Linked DNA regions of Homo sapiens. The protein of the gene in region 5 purifies or fractionates together with the protein of the main gene of each other region. This does not show direct contact. Each region holds a gene or a part of one and is shown on either strand. Other genes may lie near its edges. The genes, in order: EIF2D, ACAT1, HELLS, EIF2AK4 and GCN1.

The links.
Region 1: the proteins of GCN1 (region 5) and EIF2D fractionate together in Homo sapiens (co-fractionation; one large-scale study listed by BioGRID). This does not show direct contact.
Region 2: the proteins of GCN1 (region 5) and ACAT1 fractionate together in Homo sapiens (co-fractionation; one large-scale study listed by BioGRID). This does not show direct contact.
Region 3: the proteins of GCN1 (region 5) and HELLS fractionate together in Homo sapiens (co-fractionation; one large-scale study listed by BioGRID). This does not show direct contact.
Region 4: the proteins of GCN1 (region 5) and EIF2AK4 purify together in Homo sapiens (affinity purification with western blotting, with the first as the bait; one study listed by BioGRID). This does not show direct contact.

What each region holds. Positions count from the first base shown.
Region 1 is NC_000001.11:206,597,625-206,603,834, forward strand, and holds part of EIF2D (eukaryotic translation initiation factor 2D), read right to left. Parts: intron 5,581-6,210; coding exon 5,327-5,580; intron 4,830-5,326; coding exon 4,712-4,829; intron 2,685-4,711; coding exon 2,639-2,684; intron 2,213-2,638; coding exon 2,109-2,212; intron 1,989-2,108; coding exon 1,839-1,988; intron 1,469-1,838; coding exon 1,379-1,468; intron 1-1,378. UniProt on the Homo sapiens protein: Translation initiation factor that is able to deliver tRNA to the P-site of the eukaryotic ribosome in a GTP-independent manner.
Region 2 is NC_000011.10:108,125,447-108,131,656, reverse strand, and holds part of ACAT1 (acetyl-CoA acetyltransferase, mitochondrial isoform b precursor), read right to left. Parts: intron 3,772-6,210; exon of another isoform or gene 3,678-3,771; intron 3,015-3,677; exon of another isoform or gene 2,798-3,014; intron 2,555-2,797; exon of another isoform or gene 2,456-2,554; intron 1-2,455. UniProt on the Homo sapiens protein: This is one of the enzymes that catalyzes the last step of the mitochondrial beta-oxidation pathway, an aerobic process breaking down fatty acids into acetyl-CoA.
Region 3 is NC_000010.11:94,568,548-94,574,757, reverse strand, and holds part of HELLS (lymphoid-specific helicase), read right to left. Parts: exon of another isoform or gene 3,371-6,210; coding exon 3,329-3,370; exon of another isoform or gene 799-3,328; coding exon 571-798; intron 205-570; coding exon 22-204; intron 1-21. UniProt on the Homo sapiens protein: Plays an essential role in normal development and survival. Involved in regulation of the expansion or survival of lymphoid cells. Required for de novo or maintenance DNA methylation. May control silencing of the imprinted CDKN1C gene through DNA methylation.
Region 4 is NC_000015.10:40,029,866-40,036,075, forward strand, and holds the end of EIF2AK4 (eIF-2-alpha kinase GCN2), read left to right. Parts: intron 1-493; coding exon 494-591; intron 592-2,303; coding exon 2,304-2,372; intron 2,373-2,891; coding exon 2,892-2,936; intron 2,937-4,460; coding exon 4,461-4,579; intron 4,580-5,161; coding exon 5,162-5,219; 3' UTR 5,220-5,726; downstream 5,727-6,210. UniProt on the Homo sapiens protein: Metabolic-stress sensing protein kinase that phosphorylates the alpha subunit of eukaryotic translation initiation factor 2 (EIF2S1/eIF-2-alpha) in response to low amino acid availability.
Region 5 is NC_000012.12:120,131,164-120,137,373, forward strand, and holds part of GCN1 (stalled ribosome sensor GCN1), read right to left. Parts: intron 6,157-6,210; coding exon 6,043-6,156; intron 5,570-6,042; coding exon 5,339-5,569; intron 3,564-5,338; coding exon 3,370-3,563; intron 3,243-3,369; coding exon 3,128-3,242; intron 860-3,127; coding exon 763-859; intron 171-762; coding exon 22-170; intron 1-21. UniProt on the Homo sapiens protein: Ribosome collision sensor that plays a key role in the RNF14-RNF25 translation quality control pathway, a pathway that takes place when a ribosome has stalled during translation, and which promotes ubiquitination and degradation of translation factors on stalled ribosomes.

The DNA.
Region 1 (6,210 bases), on a different chromosome or scaffold from region 5:
TGGCCAACATGGTAAAACCCCATCTCTACTAAAAATAGGGCCGGGCGCAGTGGCCCACGCCTGTAATCCCAGCACTTTGGGACGCCGAGATGGGTGGATCACTTGAGGTCAGGAGTTCAAGACTAGCCTGGCCAACATGGTGAAACCCCGTCTCTACTAAAAATACAAAAATTAGCCGGGCATGGTGGCGCATCCCTGTAATTCCAGCTACTTGGGAGGCTGAGGCAGGAGAATCGCTTGAACCTGGGAGGCAGAGGTTGCAGTGAGCACAGATTGTACCATTGCACTCCAGCCTGGGCAACAAGAGCAAAACTCTGTCTCAAAAATAAAAATAAAACATAAAATAAAATGAAGGTATTAGATTAGGCTGGTATGTCTCAACTTTTTTATCATGATGATGTTTTTTTAAAGTGAAAAAAAAATTTTTTTTTGAGATGGGGTTTCACTGTATCACCCAGGTTGCAGTGCAGTGGCATCATCATTGCTCACTGCAGCCTCAACCTCTTGGGCTCAAGCGATCCTCCCACCTCAACCTCCCAAGTGGCTGAGACTACAGGCATGCCCTACCATGCCCGGCTAATTTTTGTATTTTTTGTAGCGACAGGGTTTCATCATGCTGCTCAGGTGGGTCTCAAACCCCTGGCCTCAAGCAATCCTCCCACCTCAACCTACAAAAATGTTGGGATTACAGACATAAGCCACAGTGTCCGGCCATTAAAGTAAAAAACAATTAATGGAACTCTCTTCATCTGGTAGTTTACCATCTGTATCTCCTTTTAAGAAAATAATACCATAATGGGTACAAATATACAGTTAGATAGAAGAAATAAGTTTAGTCTTTGAGAGCAGAGTAAGGTGACTGTAGTTAACAACAATGTATTGTGTATGTCAAAATAGCTAGAAAAGAGGACTTACAGTGTTCCCGACACATAGAAATGGTAAATACTCAAGGTGATGATACCCCAAATACCCTGCCTTGATCGTTATACACTCTGTGCATGTAACAAAATACCATGCACCCCATAAATATGTACAAATATCTATCAATAAAAATAAATACCTAAAGCTATGATGACTTCAGTAAATTCTTTGTAAGCTTGCATTTTATTCCTCACAATAGCCAATTAAAGATGATTCATGGGTATTTGTGAGAGAATATTTACTTAGTCGGTAGTCAATGTTGATCGTATACATGGATCTGAACACCCCAGACAATAACTGAGTGTCCACAGCCCATGGTTTGGAAACCACTGATCTTAATTACCTCTAAGATGCTATGGTTTTCTATTCTCCCTCCCAGACATCCTCCCCAAATGTGTCTATGTCTGATAAAGACAAAGACCCAATAAGACAGATCTGGTGCTTCTCATGCACTCACTTTTTGTTGTCTGCATCAACCAGGTCATTTTTCTTGGCGTAGTTAATGACGATCGTTCGGACCTCACTGCCCTCCAGAAAGCTCCCCTTCCTAGGTGAGGAGAAGTGACCCAGGGGTTAGTTCATGCTGTGCCATGAGACAAAAATGCAGATGCCCAGACTCACTCCCTGCTGAGCAGGGAACTTTCCTTAGCTTTCGGCCTCTAGTTTCTTCCCTTTTCCTGACTGAAGTGAGCATGACCATGTGAAGAATAATTACACGCAGAAAAGGGTGAGACCTACTCGTTCATTTAGTCCAGAGGAACTTGCCCAGGGAAGAAGGCTGGAAGCTGGATTTTGGAGAAGGGGAGAACAGGGGCAGAGCAGGTTTTGCCAGTCGCAAAAGAGCACTACTCAGGTTGAGAGGAACTGTAGGCCAGAACACCAAGCAGGCAGAGAAGGGCTGCTCTCCAAAAACTCACTTGTGGCCAGACTCCTGGAAGAGCAGGGTCATGCTGGCTGGGACACAGTAGAGGGGTTTTATATCTGGAGGGTGATAGGGCTGTTCCCTGCTACCCTCCTGGATAGTCTGGGAGGTCGGGGAGGGCTCGGGTATGACGAAAGATGTAATCCTAAAACCCAGCAGAAGGAAAGAAAAAACACATTTTATACTAGCATCTCAGCAATCCCCAGTCCGTGGCCCAGGTGCCCTGGGGCCAGCTGGGCTACAGTGACAGGCCCCCTGCACTCACCTCGGGTGTTTCCAGTCCACAGCCACAATGCTCTCCACCCCTTTGCTCAGCTCCTTCACCTGTATAATCTGCTCCTGCTGCATTTGCTGCAGGAACTTAGAGAGCTAAGGGAGAGAGGGCCAGTGGTAGGGGACTTCATTGATTCCACACACATACTGAGCACCCAGGATGTGCCAGAGTGAGCTAGGCAGGGACTGTGCAGGGATATGAGACAGCCCCTGCCTTCATCAACCAGGAACTGGGAGGCCCCCAACCTGAGGGCCAGGGAGCAAGAAGCTGCTAGAGACTAACCAGTGAGGCCGTTCAGAACTCTAATCAGATATAAAGGGGTCAAAGGAGAAAGGAAAGTGGGTGCCACCAACTGCTTCAGCCCAGGGAGAGTTTCTTTCTTCCCCCTTATACTTGGAGTCAAAAAGCTTAATTCTAGACTGAGCCTGGTAGACAAGGCTTCCCCAGCATCCATCTGGCTTATGTCATATGTGCCCCTACACAACTCTCTGCATGGGTCTGCAAAGAAGATCCTTGCTTACCTTTTTGTAGCTTGACTTCTTTATGTCCAGTTGTCGTCCTTCGGGGCTGATGGCAGATGGAAAAGGCAAATTAAACTAATGAGCAGTCATACTGGGACCTGCCTGACACTGAGAGGAGGGCCTTTTTCCTCAGCCTTCCTCCCCCACCTTCAGAGAGAGGCCACTGTGCCAGAACTCTCTGCCCAGGGATGACAGCAGAGAGGGATGCAGACTATGGGACATTCTAAATCAGTGCTGTTCAAGAGAACTTTCCATAGACGTGGAATGTTCTCTGTGTTGTCTAACAGGGCAGCCATTAGCCACATGTGGGTAGTAAGTACTTGAAGTGTGACTAATGTGACCAAGGGAACTGAATTTTAAATTTTATTTACTTTAAATTAATTTAAACTGAAAATAGCGACATGTGGCCAGTGGCTACCACATTGGATACAGCCTTAGATTCCTCCCAGACCAGACAACCTTCTGTGGCCTCCAAAGTTGCAACAGCAAACTCACACTGTGGGCAGCCAGGCCTGGAGTGGGGCCCAGCAAGCCGCATCCTGGGGTCAGGTCTGGCCAACTAATTATCTACTGTCTATGGTCACATTAGTGCTACAATGGCAGCATCGAGCAGTTGCAACAGAGATGGTGTGGCCTGCAAAACTGAAAATATTCATATTTACTATCTGGCCCTTTACAGAAAAACATGCTGACCCCTGCACTACAGCAATTAGTTTTGGAGAGAACATTCCTGATAAAAGCTTACATCTTCTCTCAAAACATGACACGCAATAGCAGTGGATTCTCGAGGAGTCCTTCTAGAATCCACCCCAGAATCCTATCCTACAGAATATTCTGGGGCCCCTTTACCATATATTTGCAACCCAAGAAAGTCAGAACAGATTACCAAGTATCCCTCCACACACTCCAGACACCACATTTGTACAGGATAGCTTAAAGACACCCAAGTATAAATGGGAAGACATTACATTAAGAATCACTTTTTTAAAAAACCACAGCCAGATTCTCAAAAAGAAATAAATTCAGGCCGGACACAGTGGCTCACGCCTGTAATCCCAGCACTACGGGAGGCCGAGGCAGGCGGATCACTTGAGGTTAGGAGTTCAAAACCAGCCTGGGCAACATGGTGATACCCCATCTTTACTAAAAATACAAAAATTAGCTGCACATGGTGGCATGTGCCTGTAATCCCAGCTACTCGGGAAGGCTGAGGCAGGAGAATCTCTTGAACCTGGGAGGCAGGGGTTGCAGTGAGCCGAGATCACGCCACTGTACTCCAGCCTGGGTGACAGAGTGAAACTGTGTCTCAAAACAAAAAATAAATAAATAAATAAATTCAATCTCAGGGTAAAAATCAATAAGCAAACCTCCTGACATGATAGTATTTACTGAATGCTTATTATGGTTCAGGCTATGTAATCTTTACAGCAATCCCATGATTATTAGAAATTAGGACTCAGAGAAGCCCAGTAACAAGCTAAAATGCACATTGCTTGAACACCCTGGAGACCTAGCAGTTGAGTACAGACAGCTCTGTCTTCAAAATCCAGGTTCTATCCACACGCAATAATACCACTCCTGATGGCTTGTGTTTTGGATGGGGTGGGCCGGGACGGGGGGTGTTCACACCAATTCTTCCTCCTAATAAAACCTAATGTGGCCCCCCACATACTTTTCAGAAGTGTGAGGAGGTTGAATGTTCCAGAAGAAGATTCCTGACAAAGAGGCTGCCCTGGGACACTTCCTGCAGAGGACACGCTGCCCGATTTGTGAGGTTGCCCAGAACCCCCACGGCAGAGGCAGTGTTCACAGAATCTCAGGAATTTTAACTTTCCGGTCCTCAATATCCTTTCATTGGCTAAAATTTAAGATTTTGTTTTAACAGCCCAGCAAGCTAAGAATTAACTTTTTAGAACCCAGGAACTAATGTATTTGTCAGATAAGCCTTCCCTCCACTCTTTCCACAGCATGTCCCTCAACCAGTCCCTGCATTGGCCCCATCCTGTCCTACTACCAAGGAGCACACGTGAGACCCCGGCCCCGGCCTCCAGCCCACATCAGTGCTTTCCATACCAGCAGGAGAACATGTGGCTGCCAAGGAAAGTGCTGGTGAGTAAAGGGAGGTCAGCCTTTTTGACTCGGCACTTCAAGGCATGTAAGAAGCATTGCTGTAACAGCTCATCCATTTGTTCTGCAGGGAAAAGACAAGAGCCACATCCTTCCTGAGGGATACAGAACACCTGGTACAAGAAAACGACCCCCAGCTTCATCCCTACCTCACCCACTTGGCTCTGAAAGGAACCCATTCCCAGGTACCAAAGCTCCCAGCCTCTCTTGAGCACTGAGCCTTTAAAGAGGGTTGACCCCAGAGAAGGAGTCAAGCCACAAAGTCCCACCAAGCTAGGAGTGTTCACCCAGAGAAGTTGAGCCAGAAGAAACCTTGGAGGGCTTTGTAGCTGAAGACAGGCAAATGCCAGGGCAGATTAGCTCCCAGGAAGACGTGACTTATGTGGAAAGGATTCAAAAACAAGATGTGAAAGGGCTGCTGCGCCACCCTCACAGAAAATAAGGACCTTCCCCTCCTCCCCCGGAAGCTTAAGGGCCATTCTAGTCAGCAGTGGAGTGGAGTTCGTCAGGCTCCTAAATTGAGAGGTGGGGAGATGGGCTCTTCTCCTCCTAGAGTTATACCTTGAAGCGTTTTGCTATCTGTGGAGTCTTGGTTCAGGCCCCTGGTGCTGGTGTCTTCTGGGGCTTCTGAGAGAGACTTGTCTTCACGTGCCTGGTGAACCTCCCCATTCTCCTCTTCCCCCTCCAGGGTCATGTGCCTCATGTCTCCCTGCAGGGTGGAGTCCATCTGGACAGACCCCTTCTCTTCACTGAGATCTGCTGAATCCAGGGCCAGTGGAGCAATGGAAGGTGGAGAGGACTTGTTTCCAGACCGCCTGGAAAAATCTCATGTCAGAAACATCAAGCAGCAGCTCCAATACTCTCCAGCCCTGGCCACAGAGGAGTCAGCAGTGAGGTCAGAGACAGCAGAGAGCCAACAGGCAGGAGTGGCCAGGAGGGGGCAGAGAGCCTGTGCCCTCATCTCAAGCGTACTTTCAATTCTGGGCCCCTAAAAGTTCCATGCCTCAGTTTCTTCATCTCTGAAATGGGGAGAATAAATCTTGTCTCCTCCCTATCCCAAAAGAATAATACTATTAATAGACATCCCAAGACTGAGAAAGATTAAAGAAAAAGGAGTTTAAGATAAACTCCCAAAAATGTTCCCTTCATCTGAGTTAATAACAAAACCAATTTGAATTAAATATGAACATTAAGATCGCGAATGCATCTGTAATATCTGTTTGGTGAAATGCAAACCCACGGCTCAGCATATGTAATAAAACACAAACACCTGGACTGCTCAAGGACTGCAAAATCAGTGGCTTCTGTGTTACATCAAATGCAGTCTAACGTGGAAAGCAGAGATTGCCATGGTTTTATGCCACTAAGCCTTAGGAAGACAGGAAAACAGGCGATGCCACATAGCAAAGCACACAAAGCAGTAAAAAACTTTATCTTAGCCAACA
Region 2 (6,210 bases), on a different chromosome or scaffold from region 5:
GTCTTGGCCAGGCGTGGTGGCTCATGCCTGTAATCCTAGCATTTTGGGAGGCCAAGGTGGACGGATCACCTGAGGTCAGGAGTTCAAGACCAGCCTGGACAACGTGGTGAGACCCAGTCTCTACTAAAAATACAAAAGTTAGCCCAGCATTGTGGCACATGCCTATAATCCCAGCTACTTCAGAGGCTGAGGCAGGAGAATAGCTTGAACCCAGGAGGCGGAGGTTGCAGTGAGCCAAGATTCTGGGACTACACTCCAGCCTTGGCAACAAAGCAAGACTGTCTAAAAAAAAAAAAAAAAAATTCCAAGTCTTTCTTAAATATAGCTTTCTAAAATGTAGTTTTGAGTTAAAGCTAGGTTCTAAATTATTTAGTCTTAGAATCTAACAAGATATTTTCATTTTTTAAGATTGTTTTCAAGTAAAACTTGCTGTTTCTCCCTATCCACTTCCAACAATTGTCTGATTTATATGAGGCAAACACATCTCATATAAATATGACCTATAATAGCAGATAAATTATTTCTTAAAAAAGGAAAGAGTAAACATCTTGCCCCTACTACTTCTCAGTTCTTTCCACACTTCTTAGGAACAAATGTCAACAGTAGGCTGGGCAAGTGGCTCACGCCTGTAATCCCAACACTTTGGAAGGCTGCGGTGGGCATATCACTGGAGGTCAGGAGTTAGAGATCAGCCTGGCCAACTTGGCGAAAAAACCCCGTCTCTACTAAAAATACAAAAATTAGCCAGGCGTGGTAGCGGGCACCTGTAATCCCAGCCACTCAGGAGGATGAGGCAGAAGAATTGCTTGAACCCAGGAGGCGGAGGTTGCAGTGAGCCAAGATCACGCCACTGCACTCCAGCCTGGGAGACAAGAGTGAAACTCCATAATAAATAGATTAATTAATTAATTCTGACAACGCAGGACACAATTCAGAGACCTACTGATCTGAAATTAGACTATCAGTAGCTGGGCGCAGTGGCTCATGCCTGTAATCCCAGCACTTTGGAGGCCGAGGCGGGTGGATCATGAGGACAGGAGTTCAAGACCAGCCTGACCAACATGGTCAAACCCCGTCTCTACTAGAAATATAAAAGTTAGCTGGGTGTGGTGGTCCATGCATGTAAGCCCAGCTACTCAGGAGTCTGAGGCAGGAGAATCACTTGAACCTGGGAGGCAGAGCTTGCAGTGAGCCAAGATCACGCCACTGTACTCCAGCCTGGGCGACAGAGCGAGTCTCAAAAAATGATAATAAATTTAAAAAATAATAATTTAAAAACTTACAAAAAAAAAAGTTCCTACTTGTAGTAAACATGCCGGTCACTGCCTCTCCAAACACATGTCTTTCTCAAAGGACAACCCTAAGTACTTACAAGGTGACTCCCCTGCCTCTGGCCAGAGCTGATGGGATCAAGAATGGAATGGACTCACCCAAGCTAGGACCCAGAGAGACTGGGTCAGTTGGATGACGGTGGGGACTGGGACTGAAAAGTCAAAAGGGGCTGGAGCTGACCAGCCAATGCCACAGAAAAGCAGCGGTTAGAACAAAGAGAAAAGCCATGAATACACTGAGAAGCAAAAGAATGCAACATATATACTCAGAGACAGGAGAAATAGACCATGGCACACCACAAGAGGCAAAAGATGGCTTTGGTTAGTGATTTTCTAGCTTGGGTTCTGGCAGGGTCAGTTGCAATTTATTTTGTTTGAAAATTTTCATATATAAAAATAAAAAATAAACCAGAACTCCTGGACTCAAGCAATCCTCCTGCCTCAGCCTCCCAAGTATCTGCGACTACAGGCACACATCCCTGTACCCAGCCAGCTGCACTTTATTTCCTATCCTTGGATGTCCTAGTGCTTGCCCATTGTATCTCTTCAAAAAGTCCCCTTTCTGAAGACTCCTTAAAGAACTAAAACTAGAACTACCATTTGATCCAGCAATTCCACTACTGGGTATCTACCCAGAGGAAAAGAAGTCATTATATGAAGGCCAGGCACAGTGGCTCATGCCTTTAATCCCAGCACTTTAGGAGGCTGAGGCGGGCGGATAATGAGGTCGGGAGTTCAAGACCAGCCTGGCCAACATGGTGAAACCCCAACTCTACTAAAAATACAAAAATTAGCTGGACGTGGTGGCACACGTCTGTAATCCCAGCTACTCGGGAAGCTGAAGCAGGAGAATCGCTTGAACCCAGGAGGCAGAAGTTGCAGTGAGCCGAGATCACGCCACTGCATTCCAGCCTGGGCGACAGAGCAAGACTCCATCTCAAAAAAAAAAGTCGTTACACGAAAAAGACACTTGCACACGCATGTTCATAGCAGCACAATTTGCAATTGCAAAAATATGGAACCAGCCCAAATGCCCATCAATCAACAAGTGGATAAAGCAAATGTGGTATATATACCATGGAATACTACTCAGCCGTAACAAGGAATGAAATAATGGCACTCACTGCAACCTGGATGGAATTGGAGACTATTATTCTAAGTGAAGTAACTCAGGAATGGAAACACCAAACAGCTTATGTTCTCACTCATAAGTGGGAGCTGCGCTATGAGGACACAAAGGCATAAGAATGATACAGTGGACTTTGGGGACTCAGGGGAAAGGCGGGGGGTGGGGGTGAGGAATAAAAGACTACACATTGGTTTACAGTGTATACTGCTCAGGTGATGGGTGCACCAAAATATCAGATACCACCAATAAAGAACTTATTCATATAATCCAACACCACCTGTTCCCAAAAGCCTATTGAAATAAAAATTAAATTTTAAAAGTCCCCTTTCTACTTAGCTAGTTTGTTCCTTGTTTACTAAGCCACTTCTCTTCTTTCAAGCTTCTGGTCCAGTTTAATGGAATCTTCCCTGGTTCTCTCCACTTTACTCTGGATCCCATTTCCAGTTGCCTTTTCAAAGATGGCACAGTTATCCCTTCCTTCTCCTCTACATCATTCACCCCTTTTACTTCTGGATAATTCCATAAGCATACAAACAGGATCTGATTCCCCCCACCTAAAAAACAAAGTAAAAACAAATAAATGTCTCTTGACCCACATTCCCGAGCTTTCACCTCATTTCTTTTTGAAAAAAGGCTGGAGTGCAGTGGTGCGATCTCAGCTCACTGCAACCTCTGCCTCCCAGGTTCAAGCAATTCTCCTGCCTCAGCCTCCCGAGTACCTGGGACTACAGGCATGCGCCACCACGCCCGGCTAATTTTTGTATTTTTAGTAGAGACAGGGTTTCACCACGTTGGCCAGGCTGATTTTGAACTCCTGACCTCAGGTGATCCGCCTGCCTCGGCCTCCCAAAGTGCTGGGATTACAGGCATGAGCCACTGCACATGGCCTCACCTTACTTTAGTTCTCTTTGGCAAGAAAGGTTCTCCAGGTTACCTACAGTGTCTATTTGCTTGTCCTCACCTCCTCTTTACAGTTCAACCCACTCAGATCAGGATTTTATTTCTGCCAGTTTACCACTGTTGGTTCTGAGCAACATCAGCAATGTCTGTGTAGCAAAATCCAACTCGCTATAATTGTCTCACTTAACCTTTTAACACATCAGCAAGACTGGGCTCACCTTTCTTTGAGAAATATGCTGAGCAGTTAAGAGCCTGGGCTTACCAGCTCAGTATTCTTTGTTTGTTTGTTTTGTAGAGACAGAGTCTCACTATCTTACCAAGCTGGTCTCAAACTCCTGGGCTCAAGCGATCCTCCTGCGTTGGCCTTCCAAAGTGCTGGGATTACAGGCGTGAGCCACTGTGCCCTGCAAGCTGAGTATTTTTGAGCAAGTTACTTAGACACACTTACCTTGGTTTTCTTAAATACCCTCCACAGGCTGTTATGAGAATAAAATGAGGTAATATGTATAATCCACTGCAGAAACCCTTCCTTGTCTTGGCTTCCATTACAAACGTGGACTCCTTCCTACCTCATTAGTCATATTTACCTCAGTCTCCTTTACTATCTCATCTTCCCCTTCCAACCTCCAAGTGCTGAATGTCCCAGGGCTTTGTTCCAGGCCTCTTTTAATTTAACTTCACTATATCCTTAGTTATATCCAGTCCCATGGCTTTAAAAAGCATTTATGAGGCCGGGCACAGTGGCTCACGCCTGTAATCCCAGCACTTTGGGAGGCCAAGGCAGGCAGATCACGAGGTCGGGAGATAGAGACCATCCTGGCTAACACGGTGAAACCCCATATCTACTAAAAATACAAAAACAAAATTAGCCAGGCGTGGTGGCGGGCACCTGTAGCCCTAGCTATTTGGGAGGCTGAGGTGGGAGAATGGTGTGAACCCGGGAAGTGGAGCTTGCAGTAAGCCAAGATCACGCCACTGCACTCCAGCCTGGGTGACAGAGTGAGACTCTGTCTCAAAAAAAAAAAAAAAAGGCTTCTATGTGCTGATGATTTTCCAAATTTCTATCTCCAACCCTGACCTTTCAACTGACCACCAGACTCACACCCAAGCGCCAACCTGACAGCTGCAGGTGAATGTCCAAATCATAGCTCTCAATTTCCAACCCTAGAAAACCTGTTTGTGGCCAGGTGCAGTGGCTCACCCCTGTAATCCCAGCAGTTTGGGAGGCCGAGGGGGGCGGATCACGAGGTCAGGAGTTCCAGACCAGCCTGGCCAACATGCTGAAACCCCGTCTCTACCAAAAATACAAAAAAATAAAAATAAAATAAAATAAAAAAATAACAGGGCATGGTGGCACGCGCCTGTAATCCCAGCTACTCCAGAGGCTAAGGCAAGAGAACTGCTTAAACCCGGGAGGTGGAGGTTGCAGTGAGCTGAGATTGCGCCATTGCACTCCAGCCTGGGTGACAGAGAAGACTCCATCTCAAAAAAAAAAAAAAAAAAAAGAAAACCTGTTTGTTGCCGGTATTCTCAGGTGCTCAAGCCAAAATCATCCTTCATCCTTCCCTTTATTGCAATCCCTAAAATCCAGATACTGTGAACAGCGTCCAAAACATAACTAAATTCGTCCACTCTGCCTCATGTCTACTGCTGCCACCTAGTCCAAGCCACCATCTCTTGTTCCTATTAATGGCCTTCTACCTAGTTCCCTGCCTCCCCTGACACCTCTCTACAGTCCCTCCAGCTTTGAAAAATGTAAATCAGATCATATCACTCTACTGCTTAAAATAATTTAACAGCTTTTCATTGCTCTTGGAATTATATACAAATTCTTTACCTCATCCTCCAAGAACCTGCATGATCTGGCTCTAGGTTTTCTCTCCAAATTTACATCACTCTTGCTCTGTGCCAGCCACTGGCATCTCTTTGTTCTAAACCCTATCCCGATACCTCAAGGTCTCTGCAGTGTGCCTCTGCCAGTAATAGTCTCCTCAGGCCGGGCCTAGTGGCTCATGCCTATAATCCCAGCCCTTTGGGAGGCCGAGGCAGGTGGATCACTTGAGATTAGAAGTTTGAGACCAGCCTGGCCAACATGGTGAAACCCCGTGTCTACTAAAAATACAAAAATTAGCCAGGTGTGGGGGTGGGCACCTGTAGTCCCAGCTACTTGGGAGGTTGAGGTGGGAGAATCGCTTGAATCCAGGAGGCAGAAGTTTCAGTGAGCCGAGATCGCGCCGCTGCCCTCTAGCCTGTGCAACAGAGTGTGATCCTGTCTCCAAAAAAATCAAAAACAAAACAAAACAAAAAGTCTTCCCAGCTCTCCATGGCTGGCTCATTTTTATTCTTCATGTCTTTTCTTTTTTTTTTTTTTTAGACGGAGTCTCACTTTGTCACCCAGACTGGAGTGCAGTGGCGCGATCTCGGCTCACTGCAAGCTCCGCCTCCCAGGTTCACGCCATTCTCCTGCCTCAGCCTTCCAGGTAGCTGGGACTACAAGCGCCCGCCACCACGCCTGGCTAATTTTCTGCATTTTTATAGAGACAGGGTTTCACCTTGTTAGCCAGGATAGTCTCGATCTCCTGACCTGGTGATCTGCCCGCCTCAGCCTCCCAAAGTGCTGGGATTACAGGCGTGAGCCACCACACCCAGCCTATTCTTCATGTCTTTTCTAATGACACATTCCCAGAGTGGTCCACCCTAACTACTCTATTTAAAGTTACCCTCTACTTTTTCCTCTCTTTTATATGAATATCTTTATTTCCTTCAAAGCACCTCTTACACTGTAAGTATGTGGTTCACATCTTTGTTTTATTATCCACCCCTCCAACATAATACAGGCTTCCTGATGGC
Region 3 (6,210 bases), on a different chromosome or scaffold from region 5:
ACATAAGGAAGCATGTCTTACATCTGGTGTAAATCTTTTGAATTCAGCCATCCAGTTAGGAAGTGTAGACAAAGGGCCACAGACAAGAAAAGGTCCTGGTACTCCTCTCTGAATCATCAATGCAATAGTAGCAATGCACTGAACTGTCTTACCCAATCCCATTTCATCTGCTAAAATGCCATTAATTCCATTTTCCCAAAGCATCTGGACAAAATAATAGATACTGTATTTAAACTTGGATATAAACAACTACAGGATTACAATATTTTATTTCTTCTCTTTAAAAAATCACACCCAAAGATGAGAATTATGTTAAAGCTGATATATTCACACCATAAATTATAACAACACTGGAAAGTCCTTTATCAAAGCCATAAAAGTGCTGGAAGCCATTAACAAGGTAATTTCTACTTCTAAAAATTCAGGGTAAAGAAATCAGAAAGCAAGTATCCACATACAAATGTATAATAGTGAAACATGATAGAAATGACTCAAGTTGTGGTACCTCAAATCATTAGGCTACTATAGAAATAAAACCAGTATCTTGTATTAAAAATTCCAATTCATTACCCTAAGCCATTCCATGCCTTCTACTTGGTACCATCGCATCACTCCTCCAGTGAAGTGCTTTGGTTGTTGAAAAGGTACTGGCTGACCATTACACTTCCGGACTGGGTCAAAAAAGAATTTAGTATTCTGCCTAACCGTTTCAGACAATCTATCTTTAATTATACTATTCGAATCTTTATTTTTCTGAAGATCTTCCACACAGAGATTAGTAGAGGAGGAGTTTTCATCCTGTAGAGAAAAAAAGTTTAATAAGATGTGTTATACAAAATGCTGCTGTATGCCACCATTTATCAGAAAATGCAACTAACAAAATCTACTGAGTCCTATAATCATTAAGTATAGAAGACTAAGATCACACCTGGATTAAAAAACTGGAGACATCGCCATCCCTCTACAAATGAAAAGCTACTAAAAAAAAAAATAACAGGCTGCCACAGTGGCTAATCCTACAATCACAGCACTTTGGGAAGCTGAGGCAGGAGGATCACCTGAGTCCAGGTATCCAAGACAACCCTGGACAACATGGCGAAACCCTGTGTCTACTAAAAATACAAAAAATTAGCTGGGTGTGGTTGCACGCAACTGCCTGTATCCCAGCTACTCGGGAGGCTGAGGATCACTTAAACCCAGGAAGTCAAGGCTGCAGTGAGCCATGAACACAGCCACTGCACTCCAGCCTGGGTGACAGAAGACTCCATCTCAAAAAATAAAATAAAATAAAATAAAATAAAATATAAAAATCTGAGAATAACCCTTACAAATTAAAATCAGGCACATACTTTTGAAAAGATCATTAGAATTGTATCTCTCTTCCAAACTTCTAATATTGTGATACTCAATAATTTATTAAACTGTTACACAGAAAATACAGTACGCATAAATAAGACGGGCAAAAGATATTAACAGATACTTTACAAAAGAAAACATACAGGCCGGGCATGGTGGCTCACGCCTGTAATCCCAGCATTTTGGGAGGCCAAGGCAGGCAGATCATGAGGTCAAGTGATCAAAACCATCCTGGCCAAAATGGTGACACACTGTCTCTACTAAAAATACAAAAATTAGCTGAACATGGTGGCATGAGCCTGTTGTCCCAGCTACTTGGGAGGCTGAGGCAGGAGAATCGCTTGAACCTGGGAGGCAGAGTTTACAGTGAGCCGAGATCGTGCCATTGCACTCCAGCCTGGGCGACAGAGTGACACTCCATCTCAAAAAAGAAAAAAAAAGAAAGAAAACATAGTTATCAAAGAACATAAAAATATACTCTACTTCAGTAGTAATTAGGAAAATGCAAGTTAAAAACCACACAAGTTACCATTTCTCATCTAATAAAATGGCTGAAATTAAAAAGACTATCAAATGCTGACAATAATGTAAGCTGGAGTTTTCAAACATTGCTGGCGAGAGAATAAAATGATGTGTTTACTTTGGGGGGGAAAATCTGTACTTTCTTATGAACACACATTTGCCACGTAACACAACAATACCATTCCCAGGTACACAGGCAGAAAGTATGAAAACATGTCTACACATGGACTTGTGTGCAAATTATCATAGCAACCTTACTCATAAAAGTCACAAACTGCAAACAACCCAAATGCCCATCAATAAGGGGATGGATGAGAAAATTGTAACATTCATTCAACAGAATACTAGTCAATAAGAAGAAACCGGTTACTAATATGCTCAACAACATAAATGAGTATCACAGACATGTTGAGTGGAAAGGAAATAATAAGCCATCCTATAAAAGGTGTAAAAAGTGGCCTCCTCTGGGTTTGGGGGTGGAAAGACATAGAAGAGATCCCTTTACAATGGAAATGTTCTATACCTTGATTTGGATGGTGGTTACACAAGTGTATGCAAGTGTCGAAATTCATTAAAATACCATACTTAACAACTATTTCTTACTGACTGTAAGTTATAAAATGAAGCCAAAATCCCATAGTAAATTACAGAAGATTACATCTAGACTTTATCTTAAAAATCCAACTAAATGTTTATCTAACTAAATCTTTAAAAATCCAACTAAACTGCACCCATAAACCAGTCCTTAATAACTTAACAAAGAATAAAAACCAAGACACTTTTACAATATAAATTTTGGACAAAATTATATGACCAAATAGATTATCTCTCATTTTATAAACATAACATTAATTTCCCAAAGGCCTAAAAATCTTTAATATGTAAATTAACTACCTGAAGTTCATATCCATTCATGAATATTTTCATGTCATGATTATTTTGCTTCCCTAGGCAACCTTGTAATTTTAAGTACTTGAACAATAAAAAGTCAGATAACAAGGAACCTCTCTACATGAAATGGGCTAAGTGAAGAGGTGGCTCGGAAATCAAGCCTTCTCAAACAGAACTTTTAAGAAACTTAAAAAATCTTTAAGGTCTGAAGCAAGATTAAGGCATCCCTCACAGCTTCCATAAGATGATTCACGGTTTATATCCACATGGTTACGAGCACTTGTATCACTGCCAGATTCACAAGTTAAAAGCAACATTGCTAGACCCATAAATTAACATTTATACATCAAGAATCATGCAATAAAACAACTAACTAAAGTTGATACATAAAAAAGAAGAATGTTGGATATGGAAGAAGTGAATACATAGGTATTTTTTTTTAAAGCAAAGAAACAGGATAATAGTGAGAAGAACGTATACTGCTGATTAAAGAAAAAGGACTAGTAACTGAGGAGTAAATATGACTTCTAAACTTAATCTTACATTATAAATTTCTTACCTCATTCTCCTTTTTATTTTTTTTAGCCACAGACAAAATTTCCTAGTAGTTTGAGAAAACAAAAACAAATTAATAATGTATGAAGTTCATTTATTTATTTATTCAACAAGCATTTATTCTGTGCTCATTTTGCCAGGAAATGAGGATGAGATTCTCAAGATAAAACTAGTAGCCTTCAGGCAGAAATAAGCCTATAGACATTACTGGCTCATAATATTTCATAACATTCTAGGCTAATTTGGGAACACTTATACAATGGGATATTTCATCAAATACAGTGATTTTCCAGCTTTTCTTTCTTTTAATCTGAGTAGATTAAGTACAAATTCACACATGGCAACAAACCTCTAGTCCTGGGGTCAGCAAACTACAGCCTGTAGACCAACTCCAGCTAAGCGAATACACAGGTATTTTTTTAAAAGCAAAGAAATGGGATAAATTGGAACAAAGTCAGCCTCACTTGTTTACGGTTTGTCTATGGCTGCTTTCAAGCAACAACAGCAGAGTACAGGGTTGAGTAGTTGCCCACAAAACTACTCAAAAGCTAAAAATATTTACTATCTGGCTATTTACAGAAAAAGTTTGCCAAACCATGTTACAGCCCACTTTAGGCCTCTGTGGATAGACATCTGAGTTTGCATTCCTGGGTAAGAGGCAAAGACAGAAAAAATTAAAAATACAGAATAAAGTGCTCTGATTTTGAAGTACCTACTAGATGCTGCTGGTAGGGAGACAAACAATACCCGAGTATGTCACTGGATGACTTAGCAAATAATTATCTTACATAAAATTATCTAAAAAGTTGTCACCAGGCTTCATCATTCAAGATAGTGAGGGTAGATTTCAAGCAGAGAGAATATAGAAGGCATAGGGGATGAAGTAGATTCAAAACAGCAATATCAAATTTAAGATTCATAGAAGAGTAACAGGACATGTAAGTGGCTGACACACACACATATATATACATGGGAATATATGTATATCGTGTGTGTATGAAGTATTATGTATGTATAGATATTCATATTATAAGGCTGAGGCTAAAAGGATTTTATACCAGGAACTGATAAAAGCTGTCCTGTAAAATGACTAGATAAAATGAAACTTTTGAAAGAACAATTTGGAAATAAATCAAAATCTATAAATACCACCAATGAAGTATTCTTATTAAAAATCAAGCATGGGCAACATGGTGAGATCCCATCTCTACAAAAAATATAAATGTTGGCTGGGCTTGGTGGTACACGCCTGTAGTCCCAGCTACTCAGGAGGATGAGGTGGGAGGATTGCTTGAGCCCAGCAATCAGAGGTTCAATGAGCCGAGATGGCACCACTGCACTCCACCCTGGGCAACAGAGAAAGATCTTGTCTCCCAAAAAAAAATAAAAATAAAAAAAAAAATAAAAAAACACCTTAATCACAAACTTCCGTATTTAACTTATAGTTACTATAGTTAACAGGAAACACAAGAGGCAGAGAAATCATGGGGATACAATCAGTAAAGTCTAGAATGTGGGGAATTATACAGAATTACTCATTTTCTTCAACAAATAATGTTTCTTAAAAAAGATGAGAGACACTCTAGATCTAAAAGAGACCCAAGATACGCATTAATCAAACACAATTTATGTAACTTTTTCGGATCCTGATTTGAACCAACTATTTTTTTAAAATGTATGAGCTAAGCAGATCACAGCGGTAAGTGCCTATAGTCCCTGCACTACTACTCGGGACACTGAGGCAGGAGGATCATGTGAGCCCAGGTGTTTGAGGTGTAGTCACTATGACAATACTCAGGAATAGCCACTGCACTCCAGTCTCGTCAATACAGCAAGCCCCCATCCCTAAAAATAAAAATTAGCCTATTGAGAAATTTAAATATTAAGGAATTCCCATCGACTTTCAAAAGTGTGGTAACTGTATTGTGGTTATGGTTCTAAAAAATAGTCTTGGCCGGGCATGGTGGCTCAAGCCTGTAATCCCAGCACTTTGGGAGGCCAAGTCAGGCAAATCACAAGGTCAGGAGTTTGAGACCAGCCTGGCCAACATGGTGAAACCCTGTCTCTACTAAAAATACAAAAAATTAGCTGGGCGTGGTGGTGGGCACTTGTAATCCCAGCTACTTGGGAGGCTGAGACAGGAGACTCACTTGAACCCAAGAGGCAAAGGTTGTAGTGAGCCGAGATCATGCCACTGCACTCCAGCCCAGGTGACAGTGCGAGACTCCACCTTAAGAAAAAAAAAAAGTCTTGCTGAGCTTTTTGTTAAAATATCCCAGAATTAAAAAGCGATTGGCTGGGCGTGGTGGCTTATGCCTCTAATCCCAGCACTTTGGGAGGCCGAGGCGGGCGGGTCACCTGAGGTCAGGAGTTCAAGACCAGCCTGACCAACATGGAGAAACCCCATCTCTGATAAAACTAAAAATTAGCCGAGCATGATGGCACATGCCTGTAATCCCAGCTACTCGGGAGGATGAGGCAGGAGAATCGCTTGAACCTGAGAGGCGGATGTTGCTGTGAGCCAAGATCATGCCACTGCACTCCAGCCTGGGCAACAAGAGTGAAACTCTATCTCAAAAAAAAAAAAAGTGATAAAGGTGGACATTCAATTTACTATCCTCTAAACATTTGTAATTTTTGAGATTTTCCGTAATACAAAGAAAAAGAACATACATATACCAAAATGTTAGTGATTATCTGTGTGACAGCTTTTCAGGTGATTTCCTTGTATTTTGTTTATTCTCAAATTTTTCTACAAGAAAATGCAATTCCTTGTGAAACCATAAAAAGTAATGGAGGTTATGAGTAATTATATTTGAGTTTCAGAAAAACCAATCTGGTACTCTTGACAATGAGAGCTAGACTAGGATTATAAAAATCAATTAA
Region 4 (6,210 bases), on a different chromosome or scaffold from region 5:
GCCTTTGCTTTCATCACCTCTAGCAACCTTACTTCTTTTTTAAAGAAGTGTTCCAATTAAGGCCATGAGAAGACATATTTGGCTTTTAACAGAATTGAGTCTTTCCCATTCTCTTCTGTTAGCACTAACTTTGTGTTGCCATCAGATTTCCAATTCTTGCAGGAATTTAAAGAAGTATGCAGGTTTGGTGATATTCAGCTTGATTTTCTTAGGCCCCTGAGGTTTTGATGACTCCTGTTGCCTCCCTGCCCCTTCCACCACCCCCCAACCCCTGCCTGAGGAGAGAAGCATCAAAACTGCTGGGTGTTGGGGTTCTGGGCTCCTCACCTATCCGGTGCAGATGGTTGTAGGGATAGAAAACACAGCCCAGTCGTGATCTAGCCCTTAGAATCACGACAGGATGTCTACTAATAAACTCTGCCATCTCTCTGTAGTATGTTGTAGAAAGTGGGACCAGATAAGGCCATAAATTCTGAAACTCTCTTGGTCTCAGGTTTGTTTGAAATCCATGGAGCAACAGTGGTTCCCATTGTGAGTGTGCTAGCCCCGGAGAAGCTGTCAGCCAGCACTAGGAGGCGCTATGAAACTCAGGTACACTGGGTCAGGGTTTCTTTGGCTTTCTAATATGAGTTACAGAAGAGAAAAACAACAACAGGAAAGGAAAATAAGATAAACATGGAATTTCTTGGAAATATTTTTTCCAAGAAAAAAATTTTTCTTCCAACTTGCCTAACTGGGTGGCTTCTGGCTCCAGGATTCCCATCTGTCCTTCAGAGAGGGGCCATTGTGCACTGTGGGCACCTCAAGGCAGCTGTTGTCAGAGTGACTGCATCTAAATGAAAACTATCTAATCTGGCTCTAAAGGTAGTTGAGGTTTGTTTGTGCTCTAAATAGCAAAGTAGAAGAGGCCGATGACAAGACTTAAGGCAGGCTTCTCATTCCATACATGGTTTCGGCATTTGCTATATGCCTACTGGTGTGCTAAGGGCTGTGTAAAATGTAGAAAACATTAACATGGCCCCAGTCCTCAAAAGAGTTTATAACTTAGAAGCATATGCATTATATAGAGAATAATAAAAGCAAATAAATATAGGCCAGGTGCGGTGGCTTATGCCTGTAATCCCAGCACTTTGGGAGGCCGAGGAGGGCGGATCACTTGAGGTCAGGAGTTCGAGACCACCCTGGCCAACATGGTGAAACCCTGTCTCTACTAAAAATACAAAAATTAGCCAAGCGTGGTGGCAAACGCCTGTAATCCCAGCCACTCGGGAGGCTGAGACAGGAGAATTGCTTGAACTGGGGAGGCAGAGATTGCAGTGAGCCAAGATCATGGCACTACACTACAGCCTGGGCAACAGAGCAAGACTTTGTCTCAAAATAAAATAACTACAGTAGAACACTGAGTTAAATTTATAGAATATGAATGTTAGAGTATGCTGTGGACATATGCAAAAGAGTGAGTGTTAAAAGAGAGCAGTCAATTTTAGAAATGTAATCAGACTGAAATACAAAAATCAGGTACTTTATTTTTGTAAGCTCTTCTAGCTGTTTCTCAGGATTTGGGTGGAAACCTATTTTTCCCGTCTTCCTACTGCCTTCATCACCTACCAAGTTTCAGTTCTCACACCATGTCCTCATTGCTGCCACCTCTCCCTTTTTCCCAATTTAGCTTCATACTATCATCTCTCTGTCTCTGTGTGCACTGTTTCACTGCGCTACGCCTTTATAAGGAATCATTTCAAAATTATGAAGAGATAATTGACAAGGATTATTAAACAAATGGTCAAGATAAGTTATAAAAACCTCATTTCCCCTGAGATCATATTGCTAGACACCCCTTTCTGAGTGGATTAAGAGCAAATCTTCTTTTTTTTTTTTGAGACAGAGTCTCACTCTGTCACCCAGGCTGGAGTGCAGTGGTGCAACATCAGCTCACCACAACCTCTGCCTCCCATGTTCAAGCGATTCTCCTGCCTCAGCCTCCCGAATAGCTAGTATTATAAGCGCCGGCCACCATGCCCTGCTAATTTTTCTATTTTCAGTAGAGACGGGGTTTCACCATGTTGGCCAAGCTGGTCTCAAACTCCTGACCTCAGGTGATCCCCCAGCCTTGGCCTCCCAAAGTGCTGGGATTACGGGCATGAGCCATCGTACCCAGCCAAGGGCAAACCTTTAGACACCATTTGGAATCCTTTCTAGGCTTTGGTATGTAACCCTGTGATTGTATCCTGGGATAGGAAATAAGATGGCAAGAAAGATGGCTTGGTTTAACATGTTCTGAATTCCATTTTCTTACTATTTAGGTACAAACTCGACTTCAGACCTCCCTTGCCAACTTACATCAGAAAAGCAGTGAAATTGAAATTCTGGCTGTAAGTGGCTTTCTTTAGTATTTTGAAGGTGGCTTCTGTCCATACTGTCAAAGTAGTTGCCTCAGGGTTCAGAGCTTTTTTGCTCAGTGTCAGCAGAATTTGGATGCAGGCCTTATTGTGATGTGAACTACACGCAATTTAAAACTATTAAGAACTAGGGGGAGAATTTAAGGTTTTTTGTTTCTCCTCTTTGTTCCTCTTTAAGATAGAGGAAAATGAAAACAAAAGTCATTTTCCTACATATATCAGGCCTTTGCCTTGCTAAGCTTACACCGAATACATGTAGCAGCGTCAGACCTTTCGGGTGTGGTGTAGAGGGACAGGGAGTACAGTTTCCACTGCTTATTAATTCTCCAGGGCTAAGATCTTATCACTGCACAGTTCATTAAGCCCTTTTACAGCACAATAGCATCTCAGACTCTGCAAACCCTATTCATACTGCTGCATTTCACGTGACACTATGGTCACAAGGCAGTATTGTGCTGCTGAGAGTTGATGTACATTTGTGTGTATTCACAGGTGGATCTACCCAAAGAAACAATATTACAGTTTTTATCATTAGAGGTAAGCAATATGAACTCTTCTGCACTGTGGCCTTTAAGATCCCAAATCTTTGCTATTAGTTTGCCAAAATACTGAAGACGGCATTCATTAGTGATAGTATTTTTCTGGCAGCTGCAGGAATTTAGTAACATTTTTCCTTTTATGTAACATATATGTTCCTAAATCCTATGTTGAAGGACTCATACTTTTCTAGTGACTTTATTTTTCAGATACTTATTTTATTAAAAACAAAAAACAAAAACAAAAAAACACATATACTGCTTTTACTATGTGTCAGGGTCTGGCAGGCCTTGTTGTAAGCATTTTACAAGTAGTAACTCATTTAATCATTACCACCCCAAAATGTAGATACTGTTATTATCCCTTTACAGAGTACGGAAGTAGAGAGGTTAAATATCTTACCCACAGTCACCCAGCTAGTAAGTAGTAGAACCAGGATTTGAACCTAAGCAGACTAGCAGAATCGGTGTTCTTAACCACTATACTATACTATCTCTCAAACCTCCATTCCAGCTAGGGAAGCTCATTTGCAGATTAGTACTATACAAAACAAAATCCTTTTGTAAAAATTAATTAGGTCCTTTATAAATATATATATATTTTTACAGGTACATCCCTTTATCATCAAATAGCCTAAATAAGAACTTTAAAAATTTGAATAGTTATCTTTGCTATTAAGAACACTCAACTATAGTCATAGCTACAGGTGACTTTTGCAACATGTCATATCAAAGAATACTTTTTTGTCTATCCAGAGTGTTTAGTCACAAATTAAATTAGATTAATAGTGAACTTAGCCCTAGAACTAGTATTTTATATATCATTTTTTGTTCTCTTACAAATAAGCATATACCACTATCTCACTGGCAGTGTACTGATTTATGATCCAGTCAAATGGATATACTTAAGAGCTGCTATCACCGTTGTACAAAAAGTAAACAGAGGCCGGGTGCAGTGGCTCACGCCTGTAATCCCAGCACTTTGGGAGGCCGACGTGGGTGGATCACCTGAGGTCTGGGGTTTGAGACCAGCCTGGCCAACATGGTGAAACCCCATCTCTACTAAAAATACAAAAAATTAGCCGGGCGTAGTGGCAGGCGCCTGTAATCCCAGCTACTTGGGAGGCTGAGGCAGAAGAATTACTTGAACCCAGGAGGTGGAGGTTGCAGTGAGCCGAGATTGTGCCACTGCACTCCAGCCTGGGCAACAAGACCGAAACTCCATCTCAAAAAAAAAAAAAAAAAAAGTAAACGGTAGGCAGAAATAACTGCTCTAAAGTCACATCAGCACACTAGGGCTGCAGCATTGTTAATCAGGCTCTAATTAGGGAGTCTTGTTTTAAGGAAAACTGGTGCTTCAGAGGAACCCCAGCAGTCTCCTAACTGGTTCTGCTATCTCCCTATTACTGATTCTCCTGGTATACTTGAAGAGGGAAATGACACTGGAATTTCATTAGTGACCCAGAAAAAACCAGCTAGTAAACCCTAGAGACCTGTTGTTAAGTCTTATCTATTTTTTTCCTAGTGGGATGCTGATGAACAGGCATTTAACACAACTGTGAAGCAGCTGCTGTCACGCCTGCCAAAGCAAAGATACCTCAAATTAGTCTGTGATGAAATTTATAACATCAAAGTAGAAAAAAAGTAAGTTATCACTTGGGCATAGCAGGGTTCACATGGTTAAAATTCAGGGCGGGGGGTTTCAGAGTGACATTATTTTGTTGTCTTGTTGAGGTTTGACGCCTGGTAAGCTGTTCTTAGAATTGCAGCTGACAACCAATAAATCTTGCTTGGACTGTGAATCACAGTCATGATCTCATCAATAACAAAACACAGGGGTCCTAGGAGTAGCTGTCCCAATTACAATTTTGTTCACCCAGGTAATTCACTTTCTAAGTATGTTTAAATCAAAGAAAATAACCATGACTACTTTGCTGTATGTCCTTATGTCATAATGCCAATCAATCAATCAATCATTCATGTTATCATACACTTAAAAGGCAACAAGGAAGCCTATGAGGTGAATGGTTATCTCCTTACTAGGACCTTATACTGCAGACCCCTGTCAGTCACACCTTGTATAAAACCTATATAATTTTTTAATGACTAGCCTTCCATCTTGTTTTTGCTTAAATAAAGCTCCTACAGGTGTTATAAAAATTTATTAGCTCTGTTCTTCACTCATTAAACTGAGTCTGTCCTTATATCTTTTCTTTTCTTTTGCAGGGTGTCTGTGCTATTTCTGTACAGCTATAGAGATGACTACTACAGAATCTTATTTTAACCCTAAAGAACTGTCGTTAACCTCATTCAAACAGACAGAGGCTTATACTGGAATAATGGAATGTTGTACATTCATCATAATTTAAAATTAAATTCTAAGAAGAGGCTGGGTGCAGTGGCTCACACCTTTAATCCCAGCACTTTGGGAAGCCAAGGCAGGAAGACTGCTTGAAACCAGGAGTTTGAGACCAGCCTGAGCAACAAAGCAAGACCCCATCTCTATAAAAACTAAAAAAATTAGTTGGGCATGGTGGCACATGCCTGTAGTCCCAGCTACTCCAGAGGCTGAGATGGATCATCTGAGCCTCAGGAGGTTGAGGCTGCAGTGAGCTGTGACTGCGCCACTGCACTCCAGTCTGGGACAACAGAGCAAGACCCTGTCTTAAAAAAAAAAAGAAAAAAAAAATTTTTTTCTAAGAAGCTGTCCTACAAAGTTGAGCTTTGTTAGTTTTTCATGTGTAATATATTATAAATTTATCTTTTGGGATATAATAAATGCTTTCATATACCTGCTGCTTTTTAATTGTAAATCTATTAACACTAAAGGTTTTAGGGAGCTGGAACATAAGGTAAATAGCCTTTTCTTCCCTTGGCTGTAATGACTAAGCACATGAAAATATCCAAACCAAAGGGCATAAAGAAACCAAAAATCATAATTACTTTGGAACCTTTATTCTTGATGACTTTGTAGTATGTTTCTCCTAAGGTGGTTAAACAAACTCTCATTTGACTGTGAGAACTCATCGAAACTGGGGAACCATGATGATAAAATTATACAGCCAGGTGGGAAGCAGCTCATGAGATAACATGACTTTTTATAAAACTGTCAGGTTTCAATTCTAATAACCTAGAAGATATTATAGAGCTAAAGCCTATTCATTAATCACATCATTCTAGATTTAGTAGTTATTGCCAGAACTATTAAAATGGGTTGGGAAAGGAATAAAGAGACAGTGCTGATAAACAGACATGTTTAATGATAGCTTGCTCTT
Region 5 (6,210 bases):
GATATGGCCCGAATGCCTTACCCTGTCCGCCGTGGCACTGCTCAGGATCATTTCCTGAACATCACTGCTATATCTGCCGGCACAAAGTCTGCCAGGAGCCACATTCACAGCCACGGAAAGTGCCAGGCTCCGCCCGTGCCGAACCATCCAGTCAATGCCGGACACGTCCGCTGGGTGGAAGGACACGACTGGGATCAACCGGTATTTTACAGCATGTCCCCAGCACCCATGAGGCCCATGGGCCCACCCCGCTGGAGACCAGTGTGCTGACCCAGAGCACAAGGAAAACTCCAGGCCACATTCACATGGACCTCCCTGCTATCTTGGCAGAAGCTCCCCAAAGTGGCACATTAAGGAAAGTAAGGAAAGCCTGCTCATGAACCACTCCGGGCTTACAGCTGTGTTCTTTGAGCAGAGACACTCAGGGCTACGGGACCACTGCAAATTCAGTATTGTTTGTTTGTTTTAGAGACAGGGCCTCGCTCTGTCGCCCAGGCTAGAGTGCAGGGGCGTGATCAAGGCTCACTGCAACCTTCAACTCTTGGGCTCAACTGATCCTCCCACCTCAGCCTCCTGAGTAGCTGGGACTACAGGTGAGTGCCACCACCCCTGGCCTGGATTTTGCTTTAACTGCTGGATTCCCAAGGAAAGGACAGTCCAGTTGCTAAAAGATCCTCTGAGGGAGGGAGGGAGATGCCCGTCGACTCTTCGCTAGGGCTGAGAGGCCCAGGTCCCTGAAGGGGAACTCTCCAGTGTACTTACCCAGCAAGCACTGCTGTAGAACGGCACTAAGCTCCTCTTCAGTCAAAAAGGCACACAGTTCCCCTAGGCACCCGGCTGAGGAGATGCGAGTGTTGTCCTGACAGGGAAGAGAAGGGAGTGAGGGGGTGCAGGGAACAACACCAGCTGTGTGGGAACCAAGGCAGGCAGCTCTAGAGCCCAGGATGGACAGCAACAAAGAAGGTGGAAAAGCCAACTCAGAGACTCAAGATCCAGTCCTTCCTGTAGGCACTCGTGCTCCCCTGCCAGATTGGGCTGCCACTGGTATGGAGTTAAACATTACACAGCCAGCACTTCACTTAATTATAGAAAACCCCAGTGTGTATGCATATGGTAATCATCCTTGTAATAGCAGTAATAACTGTATTTACATAGCATCTTTCTTCTTAGGAAGGCTGAATGTTTCATATTTATTATCTCAATTACTATCAACAGCCCTGTGAGGCAGGGAGGGGCGGGAGGGGCAGGAGGGGAGGCACCTGCCCCCAGCCACCAGGGAAGCCGGCTAGAGACGGCCACTCTGAGCTCCTTTCTCCCACAGAGTTTGTGTCATCTTGTGGCCAGAATGACTCCTGCTATCTCCCTACTGCATGAGTGCCCCACTGCCACCGAAATTACTTGGGTTCATCCTAGGAAGTCAAACTAAAGCCACTAATCAAGCCAAGGAAGATAAGGAAAGGCAAGCACTTCCTGTTCAAATCAGAGCCAGGTACGCGAGCGGCTCCGTGCTCCTCCCTGGCCAGCTAACTATGGAATACCAAGAGAGGATTTTAAGTTATGTTCCTTATTACAGGTGCCAACTCAACATGTCCCCAAAACAAACCACCAACCAGGGACTCAATAACCCAAAAAGCTAATGCCAGGCTGGCACCCTGAACTGCCACCTTCAATCTGAGTGGAGGTTCAGAGGGTAAGAGAATGGACTGCCAGCAGTTTGGGCCTCTGAGCTCGAAGCAGAAGCCCAGGTGCCAAGCTAAAGCTGGCTCTGACACCGACTCTCTCCAACTTCATCTATTTTAAGCTGCACTGTGGTAAAATGCAAATATGTTTCAATACTAACTTTTGCTTGCACTGTACACATGACTCTGTAGAAGCCCTGAAAGACTGTGACCAAGACAGCAGACTTTCCTGTCTGTCCCCACAGAGAAGGCTGGGGCTGGAGTCCGACAGCTGGCGCCTGGGGACCAGAACTAGGCCTTTGGAGCCATGGGAAGTGCAGCAGCAAGTGTGTGTGTTGCAGGTGTGGGCAGGAGGAGTGTGTGTGGGTGTGTGTGTGTGTCAATGACGTGTAAAACCATGTGAGCCCAAAGGCCCTCTCCTCCTAGATTGGCCCTACAAAGTAAATTAGACCACAACAGAGGGCTGTCTGAAAAGGGAACAGAAAACTCTTCTCCATAGACTCAACTCCCTACTGGCCCCACAGTGCTCGCAGCCAAATATTTGACAGATGCTTCCAGACTAGGTGAGGCTGATGGAACTGGGACAGAACCAGGAGTCCAGGGCTTCTGGTTTGGACTCTACTACTTGCTGGGTATGGCCCAGACAAGTCTCACCCTCGAAAATAGACCTCTAAGACTTGCCACCGGGACACACCCTGGAGACCATTTATCCCACTACACACTAAGTTTCTTGAGGTCTGTGACCACGAGGTCTATGCACCTCTGGGATAGGCCCTTTAGCTCGGCAAATGTTTCACAAAACAATAAATAAACCTCTTCATTTTACAAAAGTGGAAATGAGAGGCAGACAGAGAAAGTGACTTCTTTAAGATCAGAGAGCAAATAGGTGAGAGGTCTGGGTCTCTACAAAGCTTACTTGCCTCATCTATAAAATAGAAATAACCGGCCGGGCGCGGTGGCTCATGCCTGTTAATCCCAGCACTTTCGGAGCCCGAGGCGGGTGGATCACCTGAGGTCAGGAGTTTGAGACCAGACTGACCAACATGGTGAAACCCTATCTCTACTAAAAGTACAAGTATTAGCTGGGTATGGTGGCGGACACCTGTAATCCCAGCTACTCGGGAGACCGAGGCAGGAGAATCGCTTGATAGGAGGCGGAGGCTGCAGTGAGCCGAGATTGTGCCACTTCACTCCGGCCTGGGTGACACAGCAAGACTCAGCCAAAAAACAAACAAACAAACGGAAATAACCAATATATCCACAATACCTGCCCCGTTTCCCTTGAAACCCGAGGAAATGTTGGTGAAGCATACAGGGTGATAGAAATGTCAGGAATGCTTATTACTACTGAGCTGTACTGGTTCTAACACAAAGTGAAGAACTCAACCTAAGGAGGAGGAGGGAAACCAGTGGTCCAGTGCTGCCACTAGTCCTGCCTGCAGCCGTACCTCATCGTGTCCCAGCATGCTCAGCAGGAGTGAGACGATGTTTTTCCGGATGACGGCATCCACTTTGGCCCCTGCTCCCTGAATCACAAACCTCAGGGCCTGCAGCATGGTGTCCCTGCAGAAGCAATGCACCGCCTTAAGCCCTGGGTGCCTCCACCACCACCCCTCCTGCCAGCGCAGGCTCGGCCCACAGCAACCCCTGGCCTCCTGGAGGCCACAGTGCTCCCTTGCCAGCGCCGTACCTGACACCTGGGTCCTCCATGGCGCGGATGCCATTGAGCAGCTCTGTGAAGAGGGGGTCCACCTTAATGTGGATGGAAATGAGCTTCCCCAGAGCATCTGCGGCCTTCAGGCGCACCCCCCGGTTGGAGTCCTGCAGGGCTTTGGTGAAAGTGGTCTGCAGCTGGGGCAGGAAGGGCTTCAGGGCAATCCCAACCTGTGGGAGGAACCCACATCCATGAAAGACAGTTGTGGTAGACCCAAAGCCACAGTGTACCACAGGCATGAGAACAAATGACAATCCCAAACCACCACAGCGAGTCCAGCTCTCATACAGGGCTGGGGACAGATAGCCCGTCAGAGAGGCCAAACACAGACAGGTTTCGCTTGGCCTCCTGGTCATATCCAGCATGCTTTGATACACTGGAGGAGCAGGAGGCCGAGGAGGCGGCGGCCGCTATCTGAGGGAGCTGTCTCGCAGCCTTGGCTGCGTTGGGGTTTGGCTTAGTGGAGACCTGTCCATATCGATAAGTGACTCAAATCCTCCTCTGAATACATTAACAAGCAGGGCAGACTATCGGCAGTACTGAAGCACAGTTCTAATGCCAAGACAGGGAAAGGGACTCAGTGTATAATTGCAGAGCCCATCTACTGAGCAACTGACAGCAGGATACGCACTCCACATTCAGCCCTCAGAACAAGCCTGTGAAACAAATGACCTTGGAGAATCCTCCCTGCACAAATGTGTACCCACCTAACTAAAAATCCAGTTCAACCCCTGACTATACAGAAACACAGGCACACTTTTGATACAATACAGGTGGGTCCAAGAGTAAAGATTTACTTACTGTTTTTTGTTTTGTTTTTTTTTTGAGACGGAGTTTCGCTCTTGTTGCCCAGGCTGGAGTGCAAGGCGCGATCTCAGCTCACTGCAACCTCCGCCTCCCGGGTTTAAGCAATTCTCCTGCCTCAGCCTCCTGAGTAGCTGGGATTACAGGCACCCGCCACAATGCCCGGCTAATTTTGTATTTTCAGTAGAGACAGGGTTTCTCCATGTTGGTCAGGCTGGTCTCGAACTCCCGACCTCAGGTAATCTGCCCACCTCGGCCTCCCAAAGTGCTGGGATTACAGGCTTGAGCCACCACGCCCGGCTTACTTATTGTTAATTAGGAAAACCAGAGTGACTGTTTGGAGGTTCAGTGCCAATGAAGGTCTGGAAATACTGGAGTTGGGTGGGTGTGCAGGCTGTGGCAGGCACACAAAGGGGATAGGGGGAGCTGGTAAATCTGAGCTGTGCGAGGTCAGGAGTTCGAGACCAGCCTGGTGAAACCCTGTCTCTACTAAAAATACAAAAAAATTAGCCAGGTGTAGTGGCAGACACCTGTAATCCCAGCTACTTGGGAGGCTGAGGCAGAAGAATTGCTTGAACCCAGGAGGCGGAGGTTGCAGTGAGCCGAGATCGCGCCACTGCACTCCAGCTCTGGGTGACAGAGTTAGACTCTGTCTCAAAAACAAAACAAAACAAAACAAAAAACAAAAAAAAACAAAAACTGCAATATCTTTAAACAATGTTTTCCTTGTATTTACGTGGTCCTGAATTTTTTCCTTTGAAAAAGTAGTTTTTCAAAATAATAGCATTTCACATGTACTGAGTGCTTAGTATGTAGCAGGCATCATGCTGGACATAACCTCATCTAATCCCCATATCTAGCAGCCCTTCATGAGGCAGCTGGTATTATTAGTCTCACATTGTAGGTGAGGAAACAGGCTTAGGTTATATGGCTTTCCCAAGGTCATCCTGGTCACAGAGCTAGTAAGGACGACTTGGAATTGACCCATGGTGTAGCATGTCTGAAGTCCAAGGTCTTACCTCCCTCTGCTATGCGGCTCTCCACAATAAATCTGTTGCCCTGCTGCTACATGACACCTTGTATCAGGCTCCTGCAGACAGACCTGTTCTCTAAGATCTGAACAAACTCATCAGCCACTCACCTTAGCCAACAAGAGGCTGAGTGTCTCGAGCAGAGCCGCCTTCACATTCCAGCTGAACCTGTCCCCCAGGATGCGGATCAGAGGGCCAGTGATGCTGACCACGGAGGGCCTCAGGGCGTCAGCCGAGGTCAGGCGGATTACCAAGCCTAAGGCTTTGGCTGCCTCCTCCTTCTGCTCAGGGCTGCCAGTCAGGACTCCTTCCCGCAACACTGGAAGGATGGAGGTCACTCCCTGACAAGAGAACCACAACTGAGAGTCAAATCTCAAACACCCTGGGCCCTGGTGTCTCCCATGCAAGCAAAGTGGTCCTGACAGCTGTCCTCCCCTCAACTCCATGGGAGATATTGATTTGGGCTGAATCTCAGGATCACAGCCTGAGAGGGCTGGCTATGGAACGGTCTTGGCAGAGAAAAGACGACAAGGGCCCCAACAGGCCTATCACACAGAGAGAACATGCACTGCTGTTACCCTGTGGCCCACTCACTCTGGCCAAGGTGACCTGCAGAGCTTAAACCAAAGGCAGCATGAACCCTGTCCCCATCTGACTGCCATGGAAGAAAACATGCTGTCTGCGAAGGTGCTGAACACCAACCACCACGGCTACTGCTCCAGCAGCCCCTACCGCAGACCTGGGACAGGGGTAAGGGCCAGAAGGGCACAACAGACTGCACGCCCACAGCCCCCTGCACGAGGCCCTGGCTTACCTTCTTCGGGAGGCAGAATCCTGGCACATGCTCGCCTTTGCTCTCGTTCCCTATGAGCCGGATTTCCTTGTGCAGCTCTTCAATGAGTGCCAACTGGTTGCCAGCATCCAGCTTCTGCAGGAATCCAGGAAAAAGCGAGAGGATGTACAGCCCTCTCAAGACTGCTTC